Regions from separate parts of the Homo sapiens genome. Here regions 1 and 3 are each linked to region 2. The links come from fine-mapping of genetic effects on gene expression. A gene starts in region 2. Each other region holds a variant in brackets. All regions are shown on one strand. Distances are from middle to middle.

Region 1 (2,763 bases), 45 kb after region 2:
TCCCCGGATAGTGCATTTTTATATACCAGTCACATGACAAGCGTTTATTGAGTGCCTGCTGTGTACGTGGCTCTGGGAGCTTCTAGCTCTCCCCCACTGCTGTCTGTAAGTGAATGCACATGGCAGGAAGAGCAGCTCCATGATGGGCTCTGCCAGGTGGGAGCTTGGTAACTCCTGGCCTCTGAAGCCTGCCCATGAGGAGAGCCTTCATCTCCCCTGGAGAGGGAACAGCAGTTGTCTTTCTTTTGCTGCTATGTGACTGCATAAGAGCTGGGACACCAGCGCCTTCTATCCCCTCGGTCTGCCTCTGGCTGTGCTCCGGGTTACCCATACCCACCTCCCTACTTTCACCCGAGGCCCTCTGTGCTGCAGATGCCACTCACCCAGGCACAGTGCAGCCCAGAGTGCAGGGAGTACACATCTGGAGCACAGTGGCCAGTCTTCCTCAGGGGCCAGCCTGAGGCACTGTATCCCCCATCCCCTAGTCTATCAGGTGCTTGACTCTGGGAGGGGCCCCTAAGGGATTCGGGTCTCCCCAGCAGCGACCTCTGTTGTACCCTGCCTCCTACCCATGGCTGGGCGCCCGCAGCACCTGCACAGACTGGATCCACAGACACGCCTGCAAGGGAGAAGAAATAGTAGGTTACCCTGAGGAGCCATCCGTGGAGGTTGAGCGGCCTGGGCCCCCCACCCTTGCCTGGGTGTTAGAACTCCAGGTTTCCAATCTTACAGTCTCTTTTTTTTTTTTTTTTTTTTTTTTTTTTGAGACAGAGTCTCACTCTGTCGCCCAGGTTGGAGTGCAGTGATACGATCTTGGCTCATGGCAACCTGTGCCTCCCAGGTTCAAGCGATTCTTTTGCCTAAGCCTCGAGTAGCTGGGACTACAAGGCGTGTGCCACCACACCCGGCTAATTTTTGTATTTTTAGTAGAGATGAGGTTTTGCCATGTTGGCCAGGCTGGTCTTGAACTCCTGACCTTAGGTGATCTGCCCACCTCAGCCTCCCAAAGTGCTGGGATTACAGATGTGAGCCACCGCGCCCGGCCTCCCACCTTACATACACTCTGCTTTTGGTATAGACCACCGTGAAGGTTTTAGAAAGTGGTGAAGCAGCTAGAGAGTGGAGGGATGTGTGCAGAGGGCAGAGGCCTGGAATGTGGAGCACAAGGTTCCCAGGCTGAGGAAGCACCCACAGTGGGGCAGCAGAGGGGAGGCAGGAGGGCAGACTTACTTCAGAGGAGCCACAGGCATCGGAGGTGCCCGCAGAGGCCAGC[G/A]CCCACGCCTTACCAACAGGAAACCCTGCCCTGGGTCACACGGTGCGGCCTGGCAGAGCTCTGATGCGATGTCAGACTTCAGGGCTCCACCTCGGGTTTTGTTGGCAGCCTGTAGCCTCAGCCCAGTCCCATCTGCCCCTTTTTACCAAGAGGATCCAGAGGGCAGGTGGGCTACGCCCGAGCAGCCAGGGCACAAGGGGCCAAGTGGTATGGCCTCGTCCACACTGTCCAGAATCATCTCCCAGGTAGCAGTTTCCAATTCAGTTGTTAATTATGTATCAATATGTGGGAGATGAGATTCCTGGAAAGAGAAACTTGACACTAAAGAAAATGCCCTTTTTTTTTTTTCTTTTAGAGACAGGGTCTTGCTCTATTGCCCATGCTGGAGTACAGTGGAACAGTGCTAGCTCACTGCAGCCTTGAACTCCTGGGCTGAAGTGATTCTCCTGCCTCAGCCTTCTGAGTAGCTAGGACTATAGGTACACACCACCGTGCCTGGCTAATTAAAAAACAAGTTTTTTTTTAGAAAAAATTTCTGGGTTTTGCTATGTTGCCCAGGCTGGTCTTCAACTCCTCAACTGCATCAAGCAATCCTGCCTCAGCCCAGAAAATGCTTTCAAAAAATTGTTTTAAACATTTTAATTGAGGTGCAACAGACATACGAAGTGTCCATCATGTTGGTTTTGATCTGTGTGTATGCCTGGGTAACCATCACCAGGTCTGGATCTAGAACATTCCCAGGGGGTGCCTTCTGTTGGTCCTGGCACAGGTGTATGAGCTCAGCATCCACATCTCAGACTGCGCAGGTTGGGTTTGCTGTAGGCCACGTGCAGCCTCATCCCCTGCATGTGTCCCCTTGGCCAGCATGACGCAGCGCCAGCCTCAGGCCAAGCTCAGCACATGGTGGGAGGCAAGGGCGTGGAGCCCTCAGCCAGGGATGTGGGCTTTCCACAGCTCATCTCACTATTAGCCTGTTGAGGTCCCAGTAAGTGGCACAGAGAAGTCCCAGGATGGATGTGGTCAGTGGTGAGGAGGGCAATCCATGCCTGAGGGAAGGTGAGGAGTGAGTAGGTGAAAGGAGGTTAGCACCTGTACCTGGAGGAGAGAACAGCATGTGCAAAGGCCCTGGGGAGGAAGGGAAGGTGGACCATGCACCTGGATCCCAGGGAGCGATGCTCACAGTGGGATGATGGCTACAGAGGCCGGGGCCTGGCCTGGTCGGGCTTAGGACAAGAGGGCCTGGGGGGCCATGAGGAAGCTTGTCCCACTGTCTTAGGGAGATGGAGGCCTGGGTTGGGGGTGGCATGAGATTCCTGAGAGAGGAGGAGCAGCTGCCCAGGGTTACTCCCTGGACCACCACCGCCTCTGGGCCCAGCCAGGTCTCATTCTCAAACTGGGATCCTTCCCACCCTGGGCCACTGCACTGCACTCCCCTCAGCCCACCACAGGGCTGGGTATTCAGACGGTTGTGCTCCTGGGAGGCTCTGCTG
Region 2 (2,736 bases):
ATGCCATTTTATCCCACTTCACTCACCTGTAAAACGGGGATTAAATTTTTACCTCCAAGAGTTCTTTATTTAGTATTTAGTCATCACATGCTTATTGGGCACCTACCATGTGCTGAAGATAACTGGCAAAGTCTCACGGAGCTTACATTCTAGTGTGGGAGACAGTGAGCAGGCATGATAATTACAGACTAATGCTTCATGCTTCAAAGGGAATAGGATGATGAGAGAATAACTGCGGAAGGCCTGAGGTGACATTTGAGTTCAGACGTGAGAATGAGACAGCTGAGGGAAGAGCATCCAAGGCAAAATGAACAGCAAGTGCAACAGCCCGATGACGGGAAGGGCTTGGCATGTCTGAGAAAGATAAAACAGGTGTAGCTGGAAATGCCAAGGAATGGGGAGAGTGTTGTGAGGTGAACTTAGAAATGTAGCAATAACTAGATATGGTCTTTAGGTGGTGGTTAGTTTAGATTCTGTTCTTTGAGCAAAGGGAAACCATTAGAGTTTAAAGCATGAGTGACATCTAATTTTTGAGGTAAGTCTTAGTGGAGTGCTGGGTACATAGTAGTATTAACTACGTAATATTTTAAAACAACGTGGGCAACTATATAAGAACAGATCATAGGGGGACAGGACAAGGAGTTCGAGTTAAGAGGCTGTTGTAGTCATCCAGGTGAGATGATAGTGGCTTGGGCTAGGTAGTGGCATGGGAATGGAGAAGTGGATGAATTCAAGATCTATTTTAGAGACTGCAGGATTTACTGATGGATTGGATGTAGAAGCTGTCAACAAGTGAAGAATCAAAATGACATTTACTGAGATGGTGAAAGTGAGAGGGGAGGGAATCAAGAGTTAAATTTTGGACATATTTAAGTTTGCAGTGCCTTGTAGACAATCCAGATGGAGAGACCAAGTAGGCACTGGTTATCAGTACGGATCTCTCTGAGCGGTTCATCCTGGATATATATATTTGGGAATCGTATTCATTGCTAAAGCCAGGAAACTGGATAGTCACCCAAGGAGTGTGCCTGGAAAAGACCTAACCCCAACATCAGAGGCTGGACTGAACATGAAGACATATGAGAAAAACTAAGAGTACATATGGTATCTGGGAAGCCAGGAGAAGAGATGCCTGTGAGGACGAAATAAGATGCGGGTTATCAGCCGACCCCCACTAGGCGCTCGAAAAGCTATGTGTACTATGTTGCTGGCATCTACACAGTCAGGACTAATCACAGCAACACCCACCCAATCAATCCGCATGCACACCCCGCCCCCAGCCCCTGCGCCGGGCAGCCCCACCCCCGCCTTTTCGGAGCCCTCTGGGGCGACTCCGCGGCGGCCATCTTGACTGTGGGCAGCCGGCCGTGCGCCTGCGCGGTGGCCCTTCCATCCCGGCAGTCGTGGCTGCAGCGCTGAGGCGAGAGGTTGGTGGGTGTCTCCGGCCATAATGACCCAGGCTGAGAAGGGTGATACGGAGAACGGAAAGGAGAAGGGCGGCGAGAAGGAGAAGGAGCAGCGCGGCGTGAAGCGGCCCATCGTGCCCGCGCTGGTGCCGGAGTCGCTGCAAGAGGTGCGGCTCTGGCTGGGTTGGAACTCTTTGCCCTTGCTTGGGTCCTCCGCTGCCAGGCAAGGGGCGGGAGGCGGCGGGAGGCTTCGAGTCCCCCTTGCAGGCCCCAGCCCCTGGTGGGGGGAGTGCGGAAGCGGTCGTTCTTTTCCGGGTGGTGGCGCGCCGGGACGCCGAGGGCTGGGAGGTGCGGAGCGCCAGGAGCCAGGCGGAGCCCCCGCAGGGACACCGCTCCGATCTCCCGCACGCCCCACCGTCTGGTTGTGTGCGCTCCTGCCCGGGCTCTGGCCTCAGCTTCCCCGACCATAAAACGACCACGGTGATAACCAGCCGCCTCGCAAGTTGCCGTGAGGGTTAAATGGTGGCAGATAGAGTTTAGGACCAGGCTGGCTCACTGGGAGCGTCAGCCTGTGCTTGTTAAGGGATAGTTTGGGGTCCAGGCTTTTTCCTTTGTTAAGGAAATCTCAGATAATGGAAGTCATTTCAAGCTTAAAAGCAAGGAAATGGTGGACATTTGTCTAAATATATATTAAGAGCTTGTGTATCAAAAACAACACTATTAGACCAAACTAAACTAACCAGAAAAAATTATTTGCAGTAGCGTGCCTGGCAGAGGACCTTAGATGTATACACATACACAAAACCTTACTGATCAGTAACTAAAACAGCATTCACGTAGGAAAACGGGCACAGGCAGTGTACAATTCACAGAAGAAATGAGGCATAAACTGCTCAGAAATTCATGTAGGACATCTCTGATCCAGCTTCCTTACCGGTAGATGGGTTAAGGATAATACCTAACTAGTAGGGCAGCTACTAGTTAGTTATCACTAGTATGACAGTGCCTGGCACACCGTAAGCCCAGAGTGGCCATTACTGTTGCACAGGCCTGGTTTCTCCATCTGTCTAGTTGAGAAGGCTGACTGGATGGTCTGTAAGGGCCTTGCCAGATCCTTCCCTCTAGGATTCTCCCACTCTGTGGGGGGTGATTAGGAGGAGAGAGGTCACACTTGGAGATAGGACAACAGGTATCAGAGCATGGCATGGAATGGGCTTGTGCAGAGGGCAGTATTGGGCACTCAAGCAAGTACCTCCTCCATCCCCGACAGTCAGGGAGGGTTTCTTCAAAGGAGGTGAGGTGACATCTGTTTAGAGTCCTGAAGGTGATT
Region 3 (2,763 bases), 24 kb before region 2:
TAAATTAGTTAAGAGGAAAAAGTTACAAAAATATACTTACACTGTGTTTTTTATTTACCTATGTAGTTACCTTTACTGATTGTAGAGGGGCAAATGGTGGCCGCCTACAAATATGTCCATGTCTCAAACCCCAAAACCTATGAAAATGTTACCTTATTTGAAAAAGAAAAAACAAAAGATCTTTGAAGATGTAAGACAGTTAAGGATTTTGAGATGAGATCATCCAGGTGGGCCCTAAATCTAACAAGTGTCCTTATAATACACACACACAGGAGAAGACAGACGCAGAGGAAAGGGTGATGTGAAGACAAGGCAGAGATTGGATTGATGTAACTATAAGCCCAGGAATTCTGGGCAAGCCATAAGAAACTGGAAGAGGCAAGGAATGGGTTCTTCCCTTGAGCCCTGGAAAAAATGTGTCCCTGCCAGATTTTGAATTTCTAGCCTCTAGAACTGTGAGAGAATAAATCTCTGTTGTTTTAAGCCACCCAGTTTGTAGTAATTTGTTACAGCAGCCCTCAGAAACTAACACACCAGTGCTTTTTATTTTTCATGTGGATTTGAGTTATTGCTTACTGTCCTCTCATTTCAGTCTGCATTAATCCCTTTAGTATTTTTTTGTAGGGCAGATTTTAAAGCAATGAATTCTCTCAGGATATGTTTATACAGGAATGTCTTATTTTCTCATTCATTTTTGAAGGATAGTTTTTCTAGATATGGAATTCTTGATTCACAATCTTTTTCTCTCAGCACTTTGAATATATCATCCCACTGCCTTCTGGCCTCCGTGATTTCTGGTGAGAAATCACGTGTTAATCTTATTTAGAATTCCTTGTGTGTGATGAGTCACTTCTCTTTTGCTGCTTTAAAGATTCAACACAGTTTGATTATCATGTATCTAGGTATGGATTTCTTTGGTTTTATTTTATTTGGAGTTATTTTAGGTCTTGGGTGCATAGACAAATATTTTTCATCAAACTTGAACTGTTTTTGGCCATTATTTCTTCAAATATTCTTTATCCCTCTTTCCCACCTCTCTTTTGAGACTCCCATTATGCATATGTTTGTATGACTGATGGTGTCCTACAGGTCTCTAAAAACTGTTCACTTTTCTTCATTCTTTTTTCTTTATGTTCCTTAGATTGGATAATCTCAATCTATCAAGTTCACTGATTGTTTCATCTGCCTGCTCAAGTTTGCTGTTGAGCCACTCTAGTGGATTTTTATTTCAGTTTCTATATTTTCAACTCTAGAATTTCTATTTGGTTCTCTCTTCTTAAACAAAATTTGATCTCTTTATTGATATTTCTATTTGTCAAAACATCAGTCAATCAGTCATACTTTCTTTCTTTTTTTTTTCTTTTTTTTCTTTTTCTTAAACAGCATCTCATTCTGTCGTCAGGCTGGAGTACGGTGGTGTGATCTCAGCTCACTGCAATCTCCACCTCCCAAATTAAAGTGATTCTCCTGCCTCAGCCTCCCAAGTAGCTGGGATTACAGGTGTGCACCACCACACCCAGCTAATTTTTGTATTTTTAGTAGAGACAGGGTTTCACCATATTGGCCCAGATGGTCTCAATCTCCTGACCTC[G/A]TGATCCACCTGCCTCAGCCTCCCAAAGTGCTGGGATTACAGACATGAGCCACCATGTCTGGCCTTTTTCATTCTTTAGACATTGCTTGCTTTGCTTCTTTGCTTTGCTTTGCTTCTTTGCCCATAAATCTTTTTTTTCTTTTTTTTTTTTTTTTTTGAGGCAGAGTCTCAATCTGTTATCCAGGCTGGAGTGCAGTGGTACAATCACAGCTCACTGCAGCCTTGACCTCCCAGGCTCAAGTGATCCTCCCACCTTAGCCTCTTGAATAACTGGGACCACAGGCACATACCACCACATCCAGCTAATTAAAACAAATTTTTTTTTGTAGAGATGGGATCTCACTATATTGCTTAGGCTGGTCTCAAACTGGAACTCCAGGGCCCAAGTTATCCTCCTGCCTTGGCCTTCCACATTTCTGGGATTACAGGCATGAGCCACCATGCCCAGTCTTAAAATCTTTATCTACTAAGTCCAACATCCAGGCTTCCTTGGGAACAGTTTCTATTGGAGTTATTTTTATTTTCCTCTCTATGGTCCATGTATTCTTCTTTGCATATCTCATAACTTTTTATTGAAAAATTGACATTTTAAATAATATAATGTGGCAATTCTGAAAATGAGATTCTTCTTCCTTCTCCAAGTTGTTTAGTGACTTTTTAAAACCAATGCTGTAAAGGCTGTATTCTTTGTCATATATAGCTACTGATGTCTCTGCTCAGTTAGCTTAGTAGTCAGCTAATGACTAGACAGAGATTTAAAGCTCTGGAACCAATAAGTCTGCCACTTTTTGCAGAAGGGATCTGGGTGTGTGTTGGGGCATGCCTTCAACATTCAATTGGGTAATTGGCAATTCTGCCTTATCCTTCACTTCCTGCTTGTTCCATCTCAAAACTGGCCAGATGTGAGAGCTTGGGACCTACTCAGTTTGCTTATTATTTTTTTAATCTCACCATCTAGAAGTAATATCAAGTTTTTCTTCAGCATGTACACAGCCCTATTCATGCAGGTGGCCTTGTAGATTCCTAAGAATATGTCAGGGCTTTTCAAAGGCCCTGTGGATATCTCATTGCCCAGTTTTCCTTTTAAGCTTTCTGTTTAGCCTATTGTCTACCCCAACTGTTACTGACTGCCTGAGGCAGTCACAAAGTCAATCAATTGCTTTTAATTGTTT

What was found. PIP is the estimated chance that this variant, and not a neighbour inherited with it, causes the effect.
Region 1: its variant is fine-mapped to the expression of ACTR8 in CD4 T cells (BLUEPRINT, PIP 0.95).
Region 3: its variant is fine-mapped to the expression of ACTR8 in monocytes after Pam3CSK4 (Quach 2016, PIP 0.95).

Annotation. Positions count from the first base shown.
Region 1 is chr3:53,836,058-53,838,820 of GRCh38, reverse strand. All of the region lies in intron 2 of CHDH (choline dehydrogenase), which reads left to right. Among named protein-coding and RNA genes, the nearest start is that of CHDH, 9.0 kb to the left of the region's middle. The variant G/A (reference allele first, on the strand shown) is at 1,274.
Region 2 is chr3:53,880,816-53,883,551 of GRCh38, reverse strand. ACTR8 (actin related protein 8) reads left to right here and starts at 1,400. Exons shown (of 13, transcript NM_022899.5): 1 at 1,400-1,573. The coding sequence starts at 1,451. RefSeq lists silencers at 1,184-1,273, 1,664-1,773 and an enhancer at 1,434-1,513.
Region 3 is chr3:53,904,658-53,907,420 of GRCh38, reverse strand. No RefSeq gene overlaps it. Among named protein-coding and RNA genes, the nearest start is that of SELENOK, 14 kb to the right of the region's middle. The variant G/A (reference allele first, on the strand shown) is at 1,592.